Linked DNA regions of Homo sapiens. The protein of the gene in region 2 purifies or fractionates together with the protein of the main gene of each other region. This does not show direct contact. Each region holds a gene or a part of one and is shown on either strand. Other genes may lie near its edges.

Region 1 (7,666 bases), on a different chromosome or scaffold from region 2:
GAAAAACTGAGATGTTCCCAATCTGTTTGATAGAAGATTTAGGCACTCCTTGGCATCTCTGTATATCTAATAAGGATGAAATTATATCTCAAAAGTAGAAAAGATACTCTAAAACTACTTTTGAGGAAGGCATCTCTAGGTAAACTCAAGTCTGCATTTTATCTTGTCCTTTCTCTCTAGGGCCCTTGCTTGAAGAATAATCCATACTATACCTGTGCTTCCACTTCTCGGAGGTGGTAGAGGGGAGGCTGTCCTCTGGTCAGGAGAATCCTATTCAGTGCTCCCTTAGACATTCTTCCAGGCAGGATCAAACTCAAAGGAAAAGGAATTTGTGAAGCAAACCATGGCTTTGTCACAGTAAAGTAATTGTCACTCTCAACCCAGAATGTGTGAAGCTGCAAAAGAAGAGAAAAAACACTACAAGGATGTTCTTTTATTAAATGAAAGATCACTCAATCAACATGAGAGTTTTTCATAAATATCTTTATATGAAGTGTCTTCATACAAATTTTCCAGTTAGAATGACTCAGGATAAAACAAGATTATTTTAAATGTGTGAGTTTTGTTGACTGCTATCTTCCAAACACCCAGAACAAGGCCTGACACATAGCAGGTGTTCAATAAACATTTGTTGAATGAATGAATTACACCCAATTCTATACATGGAGCAAAAAGATCCATCTCCCACAAAGAATTTCCAACATGACATTTTATTTTACTTTGTTGTTTCACATACTAGTTGAATGCCTAACAGAATCCAGTTTCACAGTAATATGAAGGAATTAAGATTAACATATAAGTAAAATTTTCTCTTAAGACTTTTCTCATTGGTTTTTTTCTAAACAGACTATGTACATTTGCAACTAGGCTACTAAAATACTGTAATATTTAAGAACACTCACCACTGCAGGGAGAAGCTTCTCTTCGAGGAGAGCAATATAAGCCAATGTATCTGCCCCTTGTTTTGCTGAGAGTTCATAATCAGCATTATATTTCTATTAAAAAAAAATAAACCAAAGAAACTCAGAAGTCAAAGAGCAGCCCAAAGACAGTAAAACTAATCAAATCAGGATTCATATTTTTCCTTACAAATAGCAAACGTGGTATTAAAATGGGAGAAAGAGAAATACAAATCCAGTGAAACCTATTGCTTAATGCACATAAAGTTCTTAGCACAGCATCACATACACAATATGGTCAATAAATGTTACAATATTAACTACTATTATTTTCATGCTTGTTAATGACCTAGTTCAGTGCATGGCATGTAGTACAAACAAAGCAACTATTATTTTTAACAAGAAGGAAACAGTTCCAATTGGCTGTGTTTCTCCCCAAGACAAAAGAAAAAACCTTCCAATTTATAAAAGTTCAAAATGTTATTGACACAATTTTTTTAAGTACAGTATTGGCAAAACAAATAACTTATCCATTCATATAAATCTTTACATGTTTAAACATTTTGGATACATAATTCTCTACTGTTAAAACATTTAGATACATTATTCCATAAAACTGCTATTAAGAGCTTTTTAAAAATAATATAGTTGCTAGTTGGTGAGAGCTCAGGTGTCATGCCCAGCACAAAATGTGTACCAACTATGTGACAAAATACACAATCCTATCAATAAGTTTAATAGTGAAAATGGCTAATTAAATCTACTTACATACAAATTTCAATAAAATTCAAGCAAAGTTTATTAAAATATAAACTGACTACCTCTTCATATGACTTTCAAATCACAGAACTCATGCTTTAGAGCAGTGATTCTCAAATCTATTTTTACATCTTGTCCCAGGTATCTCCAATTGTCTAATGAGTTGGCAAAAAAAAATAAATAAATAAAATAAAGCCCAACATGCAGGGATCAACAATCTACCAATCTACTTCTTCAAAGTGAACCACCCACCTGTTTTCTTAAAAAGTTTAGTATTTTTGCTGGCTGAGAAACCATGTCGTCTTCAGTTGTCAAAATTGGTACATCGCCTATAATCAAAAAACAGTTTACATACAAGGACACAGTGTGATTTCCTCTGAGAGATTCCAATATCCTAAAAACTATAGCAGTTGCACATTTAGAGGGGAAAAAATGAGTAAGCTTGTCTTGGTTTTTTTGCTGTTTCACAAAGAGCGGTTCTAAAGAACATTTTCGTTTCTCATAATTTCCAGTGATTTCGCTTGCACTTTGAGGTATTACTCAGAATGATCAAACCATAAACAACACAGAGCCAAGGTCACGGTAAGAAACTAAATCCTCAATATTATAGCTATATACCTCACAGCTTTAAATGGAAGAAGAAAAAAAAGAGTGCAGAAAGGGGAGTGTAAAGGTTTACACTATACCTCTTGAACCTCTCCAGGTGTTATCTATCACATTGACTTTCAAGGGTGCACCAGAAAATTTGGCATAAGCCTGAAACAGAGTTTGCAATCAAACATTTTAGACCAAGTGCGTAATGCAAAGCTGCAGAGCAGCTTTACTTCACAGCCCCATCCCCCAAAGGCAGAAGGCGACTGATACTGAGGCCGCATCCCTCCCCGTGATCTCAAGTAGGGACGCGGGCGCCAGCCACCCGGCTTTCGAGGACTTTGCTCCCCAAAAGGTCCTGGGGATGCAGAGTAGGGAGGGCGCGCCCCTTGCTTCGGGGTTTCACTCCACCGCCCAGACAGCTTTGTGAGGCGGACAAAACTCGGAGCCAAGCGGAGAAGCCTTGATGTCGCCGCCGGCCTTCGGCGGGGGTATCGGCCAGGTTGGGACTCGTCGGTGGGAGGGAGCCCAGGGCAATGCAGCGTGCAGCGGCTCGGCCCTCCTGGACCCCGCAGCGCAGCGGGAAACTGGGGCAAGTCAGCCTGGCGCCTCCAGCCCCGCCCCTTCCTCCTGCGCCCTGGCCCGCGAGGCGGCCTCACCATCACCACCAGGGACTCGCTGTGAACCGATGGGAGTCCCCAGCCGCCTCCCCAGCAACTGAGTTCCAAGGGGGCCGCCATCTTGCGCGGGCCGACCTTTACTATCCCGGAAGTACTTTTCCTCCTAATTTCCGGCACGTGAAACGCGGGGGCGTGGCTAAGGGAGGGAAGGGTAATTTGGGGGCTCTTGAGAGATGAGAGAAACAACGACTGGAGGGATTAAGAAGAACTCTTAGGAGCAGCTTGGCCTAAAGGGTAAGAGTTGTGTGCCTTAAGTCAGACCCACCAGTAATTCTTCAAATATTAATATTTATTAGATCCCTAGAGTGTTCCAAACCCTTTGAACATTAAATCTGTGTGATGCCTAAATTAACCTGTTTGTAAAACAGGGATGACCCAGTATTTACAAGATTGTGGTATTTACAATGTCGGAGAGAAAGAACTTGGCACACAGGAGGCACTCAGTAATTGTTCAACCCCTTCTCCCATGTATGTGGCCTCTGCCTGCCTTTCCAGCCTCAACCTGTTCTCACCCTCATGTTCACTGGCACAACCCTGCTTAAAAGTTACAGTATTTCTGAACGTCAGGTAAATTGTGCCCACCTTCAGTGCTGGTCCTTCAATCTGGAATATCTTTCTTCCCTATGCAGCTGCTCCCTCAAAAATGAGCTTAACTCACCTTCCCTGTGATGTTTTTACAAAGTTAGGAGCTCTGGGTTCTTGTAGCCCCTTGTGCATATTTGAATTGTAGCTTCTCTCCCTAGCTACAGACCTTTTGCCTTTCACAGAAGAGGGCTAGCTTCATAGGTTTGGGACCTGTGCAGCCACACAAGGCTCTGTGCTTAAAAAGGCTCCTCATTTGGCTGATGCTCTTCCGTCACTGTCTTGAAATTCTTAAGTTTTGAACAAGGGGCTCTGCATTTTTATTTTGGACTGGGCCCCTCAAATCATGTAGCTCGTCATGTCTGTGGGCCTAATGAGCACAGACTAAATGTTTCTTGACGTTAAACCTGACAGTTTCTCAGAAAAACTATTAAAGAGGAAATTTTGGTCTTGGAAATGCTATGATCCAAACATATGACTGGGTCTCAGAGTTAGAACTTGGGTGCTGGGTCTTTTTTCTAGAAGGCACAGTAGTCTTTCTGGGACACCCTCGCAGTCATGCCTCTGAGTTCTTTCCTCTATTCCACTGAGATGGTCGGATCTTCTTAACTAAAACTCAAAAGAAACCTCTGCAACTTTTCGTAAAATTACTATTCAACAAATATTTGCTAGGCACTCCCTTACTGTTTACATAATCATTCAAATTACAGTGCCAGCCTGCTAAAGTCTTTTTTACATGTTTCAAAACCAAGAGTTCTAAGAAATGAAAAAGAGATATGTCAGAAATGAGAATTCATTAATAATAACTGTATAATTGGAAAATGCATAACATATGTACCATTAAAACTGTCGAAACATTTATTGAGCAGCTCCTATGTCTTAGACATCATAAGGTTCTGGAACAATACAGAAATATATAAAACATGAATTCTGTCCTCGGGAGTTTACAGTGCACAAAGGAGATATACACACACCAAGGTGTAACAAGTCAGATAATCACGAGTAGGGTTAGAAATATAAGCAAAATACTACAGAAACACAAAGGAGGGACAGTGCATCCTCTGTGTGATCAGTGGAGACTATCTGTTGAGTCTTCAGTATAAAGAAAGTAAAGTAATTCAACTTTCAGATTGTAATGGAACCTCCCTGTTTTGAGGGTTAGAAATGTCAAACCATAGACTGACAAAGGCAAGGCAGGGGGAAAGAAAATCCTAAGCCATAAAGCTGAGGGTCCATATACTACATTCAGGCATTTAAAACAATCATACAGAAAGAATGTGGATTTCCTGAGCCTTGTTTGTAGCAGGACTGAGAGGAGTGAATGAACATTCTTAGTGGACACATAACACAGTTACTCAGTTTGGCCTTCTTCCGTACTGCTGCTACTACATACAGTGATTTCATTTGCATTAAAGAGAAATTAAATCTCTTCCCTTAGTGTTGAATTGAGACAGAATAGCATGTCATTGCATCTGATGAAAGAATCCTTACACACAGGTTTATTAGTGCATAGATAATAGCAATCTTTTATTGCTGCAGTTCCTCTTGAGAGTCTGTATCTGTTAGATTGAATTTAAAAAACTCTAACATAGCTGATTGCACAAACAGGCTGAATACTGTTCCAGAGAACCACACAGAAAATTGAAGCCTTCAGAAATTATGCCTGGTATGGTTAGTTGGCTCCTGTGCCTTTTCCTGGCTGTTTTAGAGTATTGTTCAGAGTTCATCTAAATCATAACTTCAGATTCCTACCGGGAAGAATACTGTCTGCAAAACATCCATGTTTGTGTGGGATGGCCTGAATCACAGCTTTATAATGAGTATCCCAGACAGTGTTTTCCCCAAAAAAGAAATCTTATTTTTCAAAAGATGATCATTAAGAATGGTTTCATCTGGTGATAGTCATCTGAACTCAGGCAACCTGACCTTGGCATCCATACCCATCCTTCATGTGTTTCTTAACTTGGGAGCCACAGTGCAAGGTTTGTTAGGCTCTTTTTGTCTGGGTGATTAAGAATCTGGGAAATGGTGCTGTTGGGAAAGATGAAAGGTTTGTGACAAATGATGGTACAGTATATGGTCCCTTATGGGAAAATTAAATTGTAAAGTCTTAAATATCCCTTTGAACTTGAAGATTCTGTAATTTGTGTTCAGATATAAAATCCTTAAGGAGGGGAAAGAACAAACACTGAATAGAAAAAAGGAGAGCTGAGTTCTTGACTTGGCCTCTGATTAGCCATATGCGCTTGGGCCAATCATTTTACATTGATACCTCTGCTCATTCATTTATAAAGCAAAAGTTCTTTTATCTCTGAGATGCTATCATTTTATGTGTAATGAACATTTAATAATTTCTGACATTTATGGAGCAATTTCTACATGCCAGAAGTTGTTTCAAGTATCTAACATAACTTGCTTTATCTCCATAATGATTTCATGACACAGGTACCTTCCTAAGGTTAACTAACATCTTTGTGTCCCTCCTTGAAAATAGAAGAAAATATCAGTACCCATATAGCCAGTAGGTGGTAGAACCAAGATTTGAACCCAGGCAGTTTTGGCTTCAGAGTTTATACTCTTAACCACTGTGTCATACTGCCTCATGTAGCCTCCTGTGTAGTCCATTAAAAAGCCCAGTTTCACCCAAAGTGGAGATATCAATGCCATGATATTATTGTTATTATTTATGTAAATAATATTTGTTTAGTATTACACCATTAAACGAATTCATTAAGCAGCTTCTGTATGCCTAGCACACTGCAAGCCTGTCAGGGAATAAAAATTTATGTTCGCCTGTAATCCTAGCACTTTGGGAGGGAGGATCACTTGAACCCAGGAGTTCAAGACAAGCTTGGACAACATGATGAAACCTTGTCTCAACAGAAACACAAAAATTATAGCTGGGCATGATGGTGTGTGCCTATAGTCTCAGCTACTTGGGAGGCTGAGGCGGGAGGATGGCTTGAGCCCAGGAGGAGAAGATTGCAGTGAGCCGTGATTGTGCAAAAACTTATGTTCAAGCTTTTAGAGGCACAGTTGATGAAACAAGGCCCACATATTTGAACTAACTAGAGACTATTAGGAAGTACCATTTTGTCAAGAAGACAAGTCTAGTATGGTTTTAGACAAAGGCTTGAATGTACTGCAATGCTTGGCAAAGGCCTAATGAAAGAAGATGATAGCTGATCTCGAAGGGTGGGTACGTTGCATTTAGATTGGCACAGAGTAAGGCATTGCATATGGGCTGTGCTATATAAGTGAAGGCATAGAAACAGGACTGACTATGGCAAGGAATCTGAAGATGAGTAAACGAATGCTGGGTTTGGTTATAAGCTGGAGACTGCTCAGGGAGAGTATTGGTTGACTAACTTGAGAACCAGAATTGGAAGGCATGGGAATTTATAGTTTTGAGAAAGTAAAGACAAGTAAAAGTCCAAATACAATATTAGTGGATTTACATAGTCAAGGATGGGAGGTAGACAGCTATTGTTACATGGACATTATAAGAAGAAGCATTTTATAAACCCATAAACTATATTAAATAAAGTAAAAGTGTGGTGGAAAATGCTGCTGAATATTATTGGAGGAAGGTCACTTGGCACCCTTCCGCTGAGCATTTTTGATAGAGGAGGTTGTTAGAAATCCAGTGGCAAGGGATTACTGGAGAAAAGGGTATAAACGATAAGGACAGGTCTAAGAGCATGAGGAATATGACTGATAAAGGAAGAAGAGAAATGGGACAGGACTGAAAGACTCAAAGTTTTTGAAAGAGACGACATGGTGAATCTACACACATATGAGGACAAAATTGGCTATTATGAGTAAAAGTCTGAAGATGCTGGAGAGAAGAAGGATGGGATCCTAGAAATTGCCCTAAGAGTTGAGGCTGAGATCCGGAGCTTGAGCAGCGGGGCTGGCAGGCATTGAAAATGAGAGACATGCTCTCTTTCTGACACTGGAGGAAGTTTCAAGGGGAACTATGGGATGCTGAGTAGATAAATCAGTTACCTTCAAATTTCCCTATTACATTAGAAAAAAAATAAAAGTGCCTGAGAGAAAGAGATTGGGGCTTTAAAAAGACAGCTGGGCACAGTGGCTCACACCTGTAATCCCAGAATTTTGGGAGGCCAAGGCAGGCAGACCACTTGAGGATCA
Region 2 (7,020 bases):
AGACAGAGGATTCACTTTTGGCCCAGGGTATGTCTAGGTGTCTCTACAAATGTCTTTCAGGAACTAGGGTTTGGAATGGGGACCTCACGACTCTGACTAGTGCCCTATTCTACTGTGGCTTGCATCCAAGATGCAAGACAAAGTACTCTTTACTCTTCCCTCTCCTCTCCTCAAGCAGAAAGAAAGGGTCTCTTTTGGAGCTGCAAGTTGTGCTGCTTGGGGTTGGGAGAGCAATGGCACAAGCATTCCCTTGGCCACCCTGGCTGGTATCTCAGTAGGTGCCCCCTAATTCCACTGGCTCAAAGCCCAGCTCAGCACAAGGACTTGCCTAGGAGTTGCAGTCCTTGTGGCCTAGACTACCCTTCAAGTTTATTTAGGGCCCCAAAGCAATTCAGCTCACAGTGGCGAGGCTTGCCAGAACTCAGGTTTCAACCACTGGGATGGGTTATTCCCCTCCGGCTAGCGCTCATCTAAATGCTTCCTCCATGGGTGGGTATCAGCTGAGTTTGGTCCGTTTTGCCCTCCACTGTGACAGGGCAGCACTGAGTCCAATGTAAAGTCTCACAATCCCTGCACACTCCCTCTCCCATGCACATACACTTTACCATGCCATGCTGTCACTGCAGCAGGGATAGGGTGGGGGTGGTGTCAGCAATTCAAGACTATCTTTCCTACCCTCTGCAGTGCCTCTTTCAGCTATCCAGGTACTGAGTGTTCATCTGATTTTTTGTTCTCATGTATGTATATGTGCTTTTTTGTGTGTAGATAGTTGTCAAATTTGGTGTTCCTGTAGGGGGATGACTAATGGAAACTTTATTCAGCCACTGCGCTCTTCTCCTTATTCTCCTTATATTATTGTCAAGGAACCAGACTAGACTGGGTGGAATTTCTTCCTGGATGGAGAATAATTTTTACCAATATAATTGTTAAAACAAAGCAAAAATATGTATCACTGTTTCATGACTTAGTTGCAGGATTCATAACCCAAACCAGTAAACTCGTACTCTCCTTTCTTGGACCTCTTCAGTCTGCCCCAAAGACTGGGAATTTTATCAAGCAAGATGTTTTTTCTTATCCACTTCTGAATCATCTTGGAATGAAAGCAGGGACTTTTGCAAAGGAAAAGGATCCACATTGGCAATTGTCAACACGCCAGAGAAACTGGTGAGAACACTGGAATGGTACAGTAAAGCCACACACTCCACACAGCCTCAGTGGGTGGGATGGGGTAGAAACTTGGGGGAGTGGGGATGGGATGGAGTGAGGAATGGAGAGGTGGCTGGCTGAAAAACTGAAGCTATTTGTTCTGGACTGGAGGTTAGGAGATTCTTCTTAGTAGCAGTGAAGCAGCATGATTTTCCAGTTTCATTTAACCACAGAAATTCGCACCTTGTGGTCTTTTCTATAGCGCACTGTAATTAGCTGATATCCTGGGGATGGGCCAAGACATTTAAAGTGAAGCAAATGACCAAATGAGATGATGTGTATAAAAGTTGTTTAACAACAAAAAGAATACCTTATAGATGTGATGTCAATGTACCATCCCAGTCTGCATAGTAAACAAGGAAGACGTGAACTGACAAAATTAGTAGTGTGAAAAAGTAAGAATCAGGTCATACTGAATTTGCAGTTGATGATCATGATAATAATAATGAGGATGTATTATTATCCACATTTTATAAATGGCAACTAGGGCACAGAAAAGTAATTTGCCCAAGGTCAAATAACAGAACGTGGAATTGAATTCAGAACTCTCTGACTCCAAAACCCATACTCTAATCTGTGCTACATACACTATACTCTTGCTTCTCTCGCTTCTATCCCTTTATTCCTCCTCTAGAAAGTCCTCCTGTGATTTAGAAGAATTTGTAAGAACTTCTCCTTTCTGAATCTTGGTAATAGATGACCAAGGGATCTGGATGCTACAAACCCTCTAGGGCTAAGTACCCAGGTAGCAAGGGAAAATGTCTTAAGATAGAAAAACAGGAGCAAGACAGGGGAATGAAAAGAGGAAAGGAGGGAAGGCAACGGGAAGAAGCAAGTGTGACAAGTCTGCCACACCCATTAAGTTTTGTGGATCCCAATTTGCTTGACCAAAACACATCCATGTACCTTTTCCTTGGTGATGAAAAAGGTCATCACTACTAACCTGGCCAACATGGTGAAACCATGTCTCTACTAACAATTAGCCAGGTGAGGTGGTGCATGCCTGAAATCCCAGCTACTTAAGTGGCTGAGGCACAAGAATTGCTTGAATCCAGGAGGCGGAGGCTGCAGTGAGCCATGACTGTGCCACTACACTCCAGCCTGGGCAACAGAGCAAGGCTCTGTCTCAAAAAAAAAAAAAAAAAAAAAAAAAAAAAACGTTAAAGAAAAAGACAAAGGTCATCATGGCAATGGTTTGCTGCTGACTCGCAAGTCTGTATCTCCAGCTCATCCTTCTCCTCCCAACAAGTATACCAAATTCCACTTCGATGTTTCAAGAGGCCCACAAACTCACTATGTTCAAAACTGAGTCAATTATATTTGACCCCCCCACTCTTCCTGTTGCATTCCAAATACTGGTGAGTACTCATGTCACCCAAGATTGAAGGCTTAAGAGTTTTCTGGGACTTTACCTTCTCTTTTCTTCCTCAATTATTTGTTAAACAAGTCCTTTTCTCTCTATGCCAACAACAAATAGTTCAGTTCTCACCTGGATTTCTTCAGAATTCTTCTAATCCATCTCCTTGCCTCCAGTTTTGCACTCTTTCTAGCTATCCTCCTCAGAACTGACATTATAATACCTCTAAGGCTCTAAACTGTACCATTTTCCAAATTAAAGTGGGTTAAACGCCAGTTCTCCTAGCATGGCATATGTCAGGTTCATGACCATGCCAAATGTCACACTCAGGGTCAGGTTCCAGCCCATGCTAAGGTCCTAGGGGAGTGGGTGGGTGGCAGATAGCTGAAAGAACACTCAGGGGGCCATACACAGGTGAAATGTAGTTTTATTCAGCAGCTCTTTCATCAGCAGCTTTCTCATACTCTCTGTCTGTCTGTCTCAGCTGCTTGCTCCAGCCGCTCCCATTCACAGCTGCGCAGCCGGCTCTCCCTTAGCGTTCAGGGTCAGCAGCTTAACTCTTTCTCCCTCTGGGCATGAATGCATGCTGAGCCATGTCCTGGCTGCCCTCTATCAGTCTGCAAGATGGACAGCCTTGGTTCTCTCTCTCTTTCTCTGGGCACCAGAGCCTGTACCATGTCAAGGCACGTTGAGCCAAGCCAAGTTGCGTGCACAGCATCGGCAGGTCAATTATACCTTTTTCAAACAATAGTGGCTCTGAGCTAAGCATGAGCTTACACAAATAGGTTATATAACAAGTATATATATATATATATATATATATATATATATATATATATGCCTGCTCCCTAAACTCGCTGAGTCACTTTGGCCTGGATGTCCACCTCAGCCTATTCCTTGACCAAAGCACATCCATGTACCTTACATCATATCAGGCCTTGCACAGTGCCGCCTCTGCCTTTGCTCCAGCCTTGTCTCTCAAACCACCTCCCTGCCACCTCTGCACTAACTACGCTGAGCATCTCGTAGTTCCTCAAGAGCTCCAGGCTGCTTCCCCACCTGCCTATAATCCATGCTCTCTTCCAGGAAGTCCATACTCTCCCTGACAGTTTGTCTGACAAACTTAGCTATCTCCTAAAATTCATCTCAGGTATCACCTCATCTATCATTCTAGAAAAACTTCAGATCTATGTAGAATGATCGCTTCCTCCTTTCTGCCTCTTCCAGATCCAGTATATAATTTCCTAGTACTACACCTGAGATACCTCCTTATGCTAGTTAAGTTGGTTGTCTTCCCTCATTAAACCTGTGGTTCTTCAAACATGATGGGACCACTGACTTTTTTAAAATGGTGATAAAATCTATGTACCCCTTCCCAGAAACATTACATAAGCAAAATATTTTTCATAACATTCCAGTGGTTTCATAGTTTTCCTGGGAAACCATCCATGGCTTCCAGCATGAGAGTTCAGCATTAAGGATTCTGGTTTTAGACCATGGGTCAGAAAACTTTTTTAAAAAAGGGTCAGATAACATACATTTTAAGCTTTTCAGGGCATTGGTCTCTGCTGTTGTAACTTGAAAGCAGCCGTAGATAATGTGTAAACAATGGGCATGGGTGCATTCCAATAAAACATTTACCAAAACAGGATGAAGTCTGGATTTGGCCCACTGGTTGTAGTTTGCCAACCCTCTTGATCATAATTTCTTTGAGGAGAAATATATTTGTTTCCACATCCTCAGCCTAACACAATGCATGGCATATAATAGACACTCGAGAGATGTTTGGTGAATGAGAACATTCAGTAATTAATTAAAAAGTAATGAAATAAGATATTTCAGAAAAGGAGAACATTGAAAAGTGAGAAACTAAGGAAATAGCCATGGGGATGGAAAGAATAAGACTTGGATACCCACTGATTATGGGACGTATGTGACAAGTATAGGAAACACTTCTGGCTGAAATGATTTGTAACTCACCAATTAATTACAGAACAAAGATGTCTAGGACTAGTGTCAAATCAGCAAATATTTGACAAGCACTTGCTTATTTCTTCTTGGATTACACTTTTAAAAGCAATACACTTTTAAATCTCACCGTTTTCCTTTCCTAAGTACTCAATATATAGAAACACATTTTATTAGCACTTGGTTCAGCCTCACTTAGCATACAAAATTTCTGGCAACAAAAACAATCCTATGGATAGAAGCATGACATATTTTTTTAAATGACCCTGTTTTAGATTGTACAGTACCCCTTCCCCTTCATTCTCACAGTGTGGTCCCTGGACAGAAACATCAGTATCACCTGGGCATTTTGTAGAAAAGTAAATTATTGGTTCCCTTCACTAGACCTACTTAACCAGGAGCCCAGCAGTCTGTGTTTTAACAAGACCTCAGGTTTTCCAAATTCCCTCTGAATCTTGACAATGACTTCTTTAGGGTTAGTTGTGAGTCCCAGCTATAGCTGGTCCCAGAGTTCTCTACCGGCCTTCCTTATTCCCAGGATCAGATATAATCATGGGCACATTGGCTCAAGAGAGGCATCATTAAAAGACTCACTGGTAAAATTTTTTTTTTATTTCCAGAAGTTTCTTCAGGACATAACTGATGCTGAGAAGTATTTTATTGGCTTAATTTACCATCGTGAAGAGAAAAGGTGGCGTTGGATCAACAACTCTGTGTTCAATGGCAAGTACGTGAACATGCCACAGTTTCCTGGGGATCTTGGTTTGCTTCAAAAGACCAAACCTGAGATTGCTGGGTTCACCCTGGAATAGCTCAAACGCTGACACTTGACTCTGTTCTGCTCTTCTCCTTTCTTCCAACCCATCTATTCCCTGAGACACATTTTAATAAATGTTTTCTTATGAAAGAGATCAAACTTTCATAAGGAGAAAGAAGAGTATTCATATAGCAAATTATTTTATTCATATCAAGATCCAAACAAATCCACCTACATAGCATTCATTTGATGTATCTTGTAGCTCTCTATAGATGCTAGTTTCCATAGCACTGAGCATTTCTGACTGATCAAAAAAGCTCAGTCTCTTGACTTCAAACAGACTAGATATGAGTCTAGACTGGATGCTAGCCATCTCTAGGAGACAGGGTCAGTTTTATGGAGGCAACCCAGTTGGTATAGAGATGAGATCTATTTCTATAACACTAGTGTTTCTGACTGATCAAAAGGGCTTCGTCTTTTAACCCACAGATCACATTTTATTACAAAGTACATACAAGTTTCCCCAGATATGCCTTCTTTATCTAAGAAAGGTTATTATAAGCAACTTGTCTATGTCTTAAAGCTATGAACTTCTGACCCCCAAGAGCTGTCTCCTGTGAATTGTTCCATGGAGATGAGGATTGGTGAGAACATCAATAATCTTCCCAGTGTTTATACAAAAATAGTGATTCAGACAGAGGTCAAGTCAGTCCCCCAGCCTGTAACTGGGCTTCCCTACAGAGAGGAGGAAATTGACATTTATTCAGTGTCTGCTAATGCCAGCACTATGCTAAACACTTTGCATATGTTGTTTCCTGAAATATTCCCCATGATGCTACATGAAAAGCTTTTATCGCTCCCCATTTCACAGACAGTTGAACTGAGGACAAGTAAAGCTTAGAAATGTGTTAAATATCATAAAGCTAGTCCCAAACACATGACATTTCTCCGAAACCAGAGCCTTTTCAGTCAGACTGAAACAGACTGAATGACAGAAAAAGAGGTGGGAGAGCCAACAAATACCTCCACCAAGTTTTTCTGAGGCCACTATGGTCTGGAAAGGGATGCACAACCTCTCTCCTTTTCCTTCCTGTCCTCTTGCTGTGAACATGCATGCTATCCTAAACAGTACTTTTGGAAGAAGAGACAGCCCATGAGATGCTTCTAACCAAATGCCAGAGTGAGTTAGTTAGTCCAAGACTGTGAATCCATACACGCTCACAGGAGAGCTGACAGGAAAGGGTGGGTTTAGAGCTGCATTTGCGGAGCTGGATTAGGAAAAGGATCTGAGCTAAAAAGGAGGCTACGCAGATGGAGACGTGTGTGGGCCCGGTAGTCTGCTGCCCTTCCAGGCAAAACTCCTGCAAGACTCTCACTCTGGAATCAGGAAGAGGCTGGGCTAAAATGATGGGCCATCACCATGCTTTGTTTTTTGTTTGTTTGTTTTGTTTTGTTTTGTTTTCTCATTTAGTGTTACCAATCAGAATCAGAATTTCAACTGTGCGACCATTGGCCTAACAAAGACATTTGATGCTGCATCATGTGACATCAGCTACCGCAGGATCTGTGAGAAGAATGCCAAATGATCACAGTTCCCTGTGACAAGAACTATACTTGCAACTCTTTTTGAATCCATACAGGTCGTCTGGCCAATGATTCTTTTACTTACCTATCTGTCTACCAGTAGCGGTCCTTGCCCATTTGGGAAACTGAGCTTCTTTCTTCTGCACTG
Region 3 (7,498 bases), on a different chromosome or scaffold from region 2:
ATTAGTATTAAATAGTGGTGCCTTTAGGAGGCAATTAAGACATGAGGGCTTGGCCAGGTGTGGTAGCTCACGCCTGTAATCCCAGTACTTTGGGAGGCTGAGACAGGTGGATCACCTGAGGTCAGGAGTTCAAGATCAGCCTGGCTAACATGGCAAAACCGCATCTCTACTAAAAATACTAAAATTACTCAGGCGTGGTGGCACACGCCTGTAATCCCAGCTACTAGGGAGGCTGAGGCAGGAGAATTGCTTGAATTTGGCGGGGGTGGGGGCGGCCAGGGATGGCGGTTGCAGTGAACTGAGATTACGACACTGCACTCCAGCCTGGGCAATATAGAGCGAGACTCTGTCTCAAAAGAAAAGAAACAGGCATGAGAGCTCTGCCCTCATGCATGGGATTCGTGTCCTTATAAAAGAGGCTTGAGGGAGCCAGTTGACCCTTCTACCATGTGAGGAAGCAGTGAGAAGATGCCATCTTTGAAGCAGGGAGCAAGCCCTCACCGGACACCAAATCTGCTGGTGCCTTGGTCCTGGATTTCCCAGCCTCCAGAACTGTGAGCAATAAATTTCTATTGTTTATAAATTATCCAGTCTAAGGTATTTTGTTATAGCAGCCCAAGCAGACTAAGACAGTGTTCACAGGTCACACTTTAAGCAACATGGATTTTGATGCTACTAAAGACCACCATTTTCAAATACTTTTTCTTTCTTTTGGACAATTATACAATCATATTGGTTATGCAATGAACAGACTTGATTAGACTAATGTAACACCGACCGCCTGAATATTTGCTCACGGGGGTCTGTATGCTTTATTCTGTGCACACAATCCCGTTTTTCCTTGAGTCTCCTCCATAAAGCAGAGCCCGGGGTAGGCCTCAGGGCTATATGTAGCTAGACTTTCTGGAGTATGACTAAGTGTCTGTACCGGACTAACACAGTAACAACTACTAGGTAACTGCAATTTAATTGCTCAAATCAGAACTAACTTCTAAAACATGTTTCTTCCCTTATAGTCATAGACTAAATTCTAGCCTAACTAGTGACAGATACAAGCTGTAATAATGTGTTATCTGTGTCTTAGCCTCCTAGGTGAAAATTTTTTCTTCCTTTATTTTTATCCCTATGGTTGAAGAAAGTAGCAGAGACCAACTGAATGAAGGTAAAAACCACTGGCTTTCTTAGGAAGAACTGTAGAGCAAAACAAAATTCATTTCTGGAGAGGAATAATTCCTACTTGAACGAATGGAAAAATAAAATCGTAGAATTAAAAAAAATAAACACATTGTAGAATAAAAACAACTTTGGTAATAAATTCAGATCCTAATCGTAAAAATTCATTTTTTAAGTAGCTCAATTATATAAATGACTCACTTATATAACCAAGGAGCTATATCATGGAGCATTTTTAAAGGTTTTTGTTTTTACACTAGGGTAAGCATTTCCCAAGTTTGTCTGTAACATGTGGCTTTTTCAAAATAAAAGAAAATGAGAAAATTCTCCCTACTGTCTCAATTAACGTAATTATGAATTAAGGAAGACCTAATTGATAGGGTTTTACTCTCTAGGTGCATAAATATATGGTGAAATACTCATTAAAATAATTACTAGACAGAAGTGCTCAGCTCCCTGTACCTTCTGAGATCCTCCCACCAGTAAAGGGAGGACGACAGAGTGGTAGCGCTTTCCTGTTAGTGTGCCAAAGAGAGGGGACACTGGTCACCAGGATAATCTAATGAAAATACCTCTGGGCTAATCGTCAAGAGATAGGGATTAAGTTAAGGTTCCAAAATGGTGAATACTATCCCCACCCCTTATGTCCAACCTCATCCCTCCCCGCCGAGCTTTCACTTTTCTCCCGGGAATTGCGGATGTGCAGTCTACTGCAGCAGCCCTGCGGGGAGGAATGGAGGAAGGGAAGGGGACGGCTGCAGGGTGTGTCACTTACGAGATGTAGGCTGGGTAGCCAAATCCTATCAGGTTGCAGAGGAGAGAGGCTCCATAACCGAACACCAGGTACAAGGCCACCAGTCCGATGACACCTGGGGACCACAAGGAGAGAAGTGGGTCGGGCAGCATGAGAGCCGTTCACGCGGGACAGCCGCCGCCCACACCGCGAGGCTGGGCCTGTTGTAGGAGTTTTCCTCTCGACTCGATTAAAGGAGCGAGAAAAACAAACCACACGAAAGCTGGGCCTGCGCGTCCGCTGGGCTATGCCTTGAAGTCTGGGGATACCAGGCAGCCCCACCATTGTGCCTCTCCTACCTCCCGCAGGGGGCCCCGGCGCTTTGCGCAGCAACCCCCGGCGCCCGGGACGGTCCCAGGCACCCGCTTCCGCCCTCTCGCAGGGCCTGCTGGGCAGCGCTCCAGCCTGGGAAGCTGCGCTCAGCGGGGAGCGTCCCGAGAGGCCCGGACTCCCGCACACGCTGCAGTAGCAGCCCCCGCCCACCCGAGAGGCGCCCTCTCCGGGCGGAGCTCCACGGAGGGTCGGGTAGGACCGGGTACCTCCGTCAACGCGCCCGCCCGCAGGGGCCCCGCCGTCCGCGCCCACCGCGCAGGACAGCAGGAATAGGGCGCCGGGCCGCGGGGCAGACATACGTCAGCGCTGGCCCTTCCAGCTGCCAGCGCCCGGCGCCGCAGCTGCCCTCCAGCCCCGCGACCCTCAGCCTGGGCAGCCCCCGCGGGGTCCTCCGATGCCCACGCTTTCCGGGAGGCCAGCCTGATCCCTGAATATGCTGCTTGTCCCGTCTGTCTCCGACTCCACCTTTCCCGAGTCCTCTCCCTGCTTCCTTCCCCAGCAGCTGGGGCAGCGGCGGCTCCCGTGGCCCTACCAGCGGCGGCGACCCCCGGCCACCCACCAAGAGCGATGAAGCTCCTGTTCACGCCGGTTTTGGCCTCGAGCTTGGCCAGAAGGTCAGTCATGCAGTTCTTCTCGTGCAGGAACCGGTCGAACCTCTCCCTCATGGCCGCAGACATGGCGGGGACCGTCTCGCCGCTCGGGGCTGTTCCTAGTGCCGGATAGACTGGAGCGGCGACTGCGGCGGAGCAGCGGCAGGCGGGGACCGCGGCGCGTCTACGCGTCCTCCACTCGCCTCCGCTCGCCCCGCCCGGCCGCCGCGCGCCCCTCCTCGGCCGCCGCGCGCCCCTCCTCCCCCGCCCAGCGCCAGGGGGACAGCGCCACACCCTGGCGGGGGCGGGCCTGCAACTCCGCGGACGCTGCGAGGTGGCCTGCCTGTTGACAGTCTTAACCCATTGCGGGGTAAAAAGGATGTGGCGTGGGGGCGTGCATTTTGTGTCTCTCGTGGGTCCCCTTCTCAAATCGGACTATTGCAAAAAGCAGGCAGAAAGGAGGCAGGCGTCCTTGTTGCTCCCGCCTGCAATTCACTGCGATGAGTTTGGCACCTACATTGCTGTGCTAAACCTAAGGCATTTTTGACCTAAAAAATTGAAATGTTTGAGCATCGTGAAAGAACTCTTTGGAAGCAGTCCTGCTTTCTCCCTCTTTGCCTTAACTTGGCAGTTTTTCTCACCTACAGACAATCGTTGCCTTGTAAAGACCCTTGAAGAAATCTAACACATCCTCCCTGGGGTACACCTTTTCCAAGCAAAAACTGCATTAAATCTTTTCATGGTGGGCTTGCGTTGTCTTGGTGTCTGATACTGTGGCAAGTGTCCAAATTCTCTCTGTGGAGCCAATATACTCTGCACTTCCTACAGTCAAAATACTCTGAAGAAGACGGAGATTCTAAGGTCCAAGCCTTAGGGCAGGAGCTCATTTTTGCTTCCTTCAGAATGAGTTGGCCATGCTCTTCCTCCACCTAAACCTAGGCTCCTCTTATCTCACCCATATGACTTCCAGACACTCCTAAAATTACTCTTGTTGACTCCTATTCTGCACACTGCTGCAGAATTTTTGTCCGAAGCTCCGTATTATTATCCTAACAGACTAGAGCTCCCATTCCTTGGCAGAGCATTCAATGCCCTGCCCACAACTGGCCCCGAACATTCTGTCTTGGTCCTACACAACCCCTCTGTGCTTTCAAATCTACTTAATTACCCTACTGCCTTCCACTTCTGCAAAAAGTTATCTTGCCCACGCCTAGCTTTTTCCTTTTATGCTAATTCTCCTTCCTCCTTTCTTCCTCAGAGCTTCTTAGCTCAGCTTTCTCAGCTGTTCCTACCACCACCCAGCCAAATCAGTGAACAAGTGAAACAACCTGCTGTCTACTTCTGTCTTTTCACCTACAGTTAATTCTCAATGTGGCAGACAGTAGAATCTGTTTTAAAATGTGCGTCAAGTTGTGCTATGTTTTTGTTCTCAACCCTCCAGCAACTTCCTATCTGCCTGAAGGAGGGCATCAGGGTCACAGGTGACATGGTTCATCCCTCCCCTTTCTGATGTCTTCCCTTACTGCCTCCCTCCTTGCTGTGCCTCAGACAAGGTAAGCCCATTCCTGCCTCTGGGCGTTCGTTCACTTTTCTTCTATTTCAGTGGTTCTCAACCAGGAGCACTTCCTCTCCCCTTCTTCCTCCTGGGGGGAGGAGTAGCAATGTCTAGAGATACTTTCGTTGTGAAACAGATTGTCACACAAGGAGAGCAGGAGGTGGCAAGTGCAACTAGCATCTAGTGGTTAGAGACTAGGGGTGCTGCTAAACATCCTGTAACACACAGGACAGCCCCCACAACAAAGAATTATCCAGCCCCAAATGTCAATAATGTGACAGTCCAGAAACCCTCCTCTATCTGAAAGTATCTTTCCCCAGTTAACCATTTAACTGTCCCCTTCCATTATTCAGATATTTGTTCAAATGGTACCCCTAATCTCAAATTGCAACCCCCAGTGGTCTCTAGCTTGATTTTTCTCCATAGAATTTATTACTGTCTGGCATTATGTTCTACTTTTTTTTTTTTTTTTTTGAGACTGTCTCACTCTGTCACGCAGGCTGGAGTACAGAGGCGTGGTCACAGCTCACCGCAGCCTCGACCTCCTGCTGTGCTCAAGCCATCCTCCCACCTCAGCCTCCCAAGTAGCTGGGACCATAGCCGTGTGCCACCATGTCCGGCTAATTTTTTCTGTTTTTAGTATAGATGGGGTTTCACTATGTTACCCAGGCCAGTCTTGAACTCTGTGATCTGCCCACCTTGGCCTCCCAAAGTTCTGGGATTACAGGTATGAGCCACCACCATGCCAGACCATGTTCTATTTTTAAATTATCTTTCTTTCCTCACTAGATTATGAGCTCCGTGAGGGTAGACATTTTTGCTTATTTTATTTGCTTCAATATTTTAAGCACATTGAACAGTGCCTGGCACTTAGTAGTTGTTCAATAACTATTTGTTGAATTAATGAATGAATGAATATCTAACATGTGTTGTACCACCCAGTATTCCAAGTGTTACGTGGACTAGTTCATTTAATCCTCACAGCTGCATGAGGAAGATGCTACCTGTTTCATCCTCATTTAAGGAAAAAAAAAATGAGACATAGTGAGTTCCCATATCACAATAAGTGGCAGAGCTAGAATTCAGAATCAGGCTCTTACCCCTATATTACATTGCTATTATGGGTTGAATTGTATTCTACCTCCCTAAAGAAGACATGTTGGAATCCTAACCTACAGTACCTCAGAGTGTGATCTTATTTGGTAATAGGGTCTTCAAAGAGGTAGTCAAATTCAAATGAACTCCTTAGGGTGGACCTCAATCCAGTGTGACTGTTGTCCTTATAAAATGGGAAATTTGGCCAGGCGCGGTGGCTCACACCTGTAATCCTAGCACTTTGGAGGCCGAGGCAGGTGGATTACGAGGTCAGGAGATCGAGACTATCCTTGCTAACACGGTGAAACCCCATTTCTACTAAAAATACAAAAAATTAGCCGGGCGTGGTGGCGTGCACCTGTTGTCCCAGATACTCAAGAGGCTGAGGCAGGAGAATGGTGTGAACCCAGAAGGCAGAGCTTGCAGTGAGCCGAGATCAAGCCAATGCACTCCGGCCTGGGCAACAGAGCGAGACTCTGTCTCAAAAAAAAAAGGGGGGGTGAAATTTGGACGGAGACAGATGCATATAAAGGGAAGACTGTGAAGAAACACAGGGAGAAGATGGCCATCTACAAGCCAAGAAGAAAGTCCTGGAACAGATCATTCCCTCACAACCCTCACAAGGAACCAATCCTGCTGAGACCTTGATCTTGGACTTCCAGCCTCCAGAGCTGTGAGATAATAAATTTCTGTTTTATTTATTTATTTAGAGACAGGGTCTCACTGGGTCACCCAGGCTGGACTGCAGTGACACAATCTCCACTCACTGCAACCTCCACCTCCCAGGTTCAGGCAATTCTTCCACCTCAGCCTCCCAAGTAGCTGGGGCTACAGGTGTGTGCCACCATGCCAAGCTAATTTTTTTTTTTTTTGTAGAGATGGGGTTTCACCACACTGGCCAAACTGGTCTCAAACTCCTGACCTCAAGTGATCTCCCCATCTTGGCCTCCCAAAGTGCTGGGACTGCAGGCATGAGCCACTGCACCTGGCCTCAATTTCTATTATTTAAGCTACCCAGTTTGTGAGACTGTTACAGCAGCCCTAGGAAACTAGTACAGCTGCTTAGCAGAATAACTGAACTGTAAACTTCAAACCAGTTGTGAGTTTGTATAATTTCCTACTGAGTACAGTATGTATATTAAGTTGGGGTTGTTTTTGAATACTTAAAGTGATTCATAATTTGATTTTTTTTTTTTTTTTGAGATGGAGTCTGCCTCTGTCACCCAGACTGGAGTCCAGTGGCATGATCTTGGCTCACCGCAACCTCAGCCTCCCAGGTTCAAATGATTCTCGTGCATCAGCCTCCTGAGTAACTGGGACTACAGGTGCACACCACCACGCCTGGCTAATTTTTGTATTTTTTTGTAGAGATGGGGTTTCACCATGTTGGCCAGGCTGGTCTTGAACTCCTGACCTCAAGTGATCTGCCTGCCTCAGCCTCCCAAAGTGCTGGGATTACAGGTGGCCACAGTGCCGGTCCTGATTTTTTTTTTTTTTTTTTTTTTTTTTTAGACAAGGTTTGACTGTATCACCCAGGCTGAAGTGCAGTGCACAATGTTGGCTCACTGACCTCCACCTCCTGGGCTTACGCCATCCTCCCACCTCAGCCTTCCAAGTAGCTGGGACTACAGGTGTGCACCACCACACCCAGCTAATTCTTGTACTTTTTTGTAGAGATGGAGTTTTGCCATGTTGCCCAGGCTGGCCTCAAACTTGTGAGCTCAAGTGATCCGCCCATCTCAGCCTCCCAAAGTGCTAGGATTACAGGCATGAGCCGCTACACCCAGCCTCACAATTTGATTGTTTTATTTATTATTTATTTATTTTAGCAAAGGAGCAAAATCCTTTTAAGTTAGGTATCCAAATCAACCTAGGTTTTTGTCACTACATTTCATGCAGTGGCAACATTTGTACTACATTAACTATGCATGGAATATCTAGAAACATATTGTTCATTTG

What was found. The genes of interacting proteins can lie anywhere in the genome.
Region 1: the proteins of CLEC5A (region 2) and MTX3 purify together in Homo sapiens (affinity purification with mass spectrometry; 3 studies listed by BioGRID and IntAct, with this or other methods). This does not show direct contact.
Region 3: the proteins of CLEC5A (region 2) and REEP5 purify together in Homo sapiens (affinity purification with mass spectrometry; 3 studies listed by BioGRID and IntAct, with this or other methods). This does not show direct contact.

What each region holds. Positions count from the first base shown.
Region 1 is NC_000005.10:79,988,250-79,995,915, forward strand, and holds the start of MTX3 (metaxin-3), read right to left. Parts: upstream 3,014-7,666; 5' UTR 2,990-3,013; coding exon 2,909-2,989; intron 2,415-2,908; coding exon 2,345-2,414; intron 1,988-2,344; coding exon 1,911-1,987; intron 996-1,910; coding exon 903-995; intron 396-902; coding exon 213-395; intron 67-212; coding exon 1-66.
Region 2 is NC_000007.14:141,929,958-141,936,977, reverse strand, and holds part of CLEC5A (C-type lectin domain family 5 member A), read left to right. Parts: intron 1-1,027; coding exon 1,028-1,164; intron 1,165-5,128; exon of another isoform or gene 5,129-5,151; coding exon 5,152-5,258; exon of another isoform or gene 5,259-5,403; intron 5,404-6,759; coding exon 6,760-6,874; 3' UTR 6,875-7,020.
Region 3 is NC_000005.10:112,919,215-112,926,712, forward strand, and holds the start of REEP5 (receptor expression-enhancing protein 5), read right to left. Parts: upstream 3,014-7,498; 5' UTR 2,977-3,013; coding exon 2,859-2,976; intron 2,043-2,858; coding exon 1,949-2,042; intron 1-1,948. UniProt on the Homo sapiens protein: Plays an essential role in heart function and development by regulating the organization and function of the sarcoplasmic reticulum in cardiomyocytes.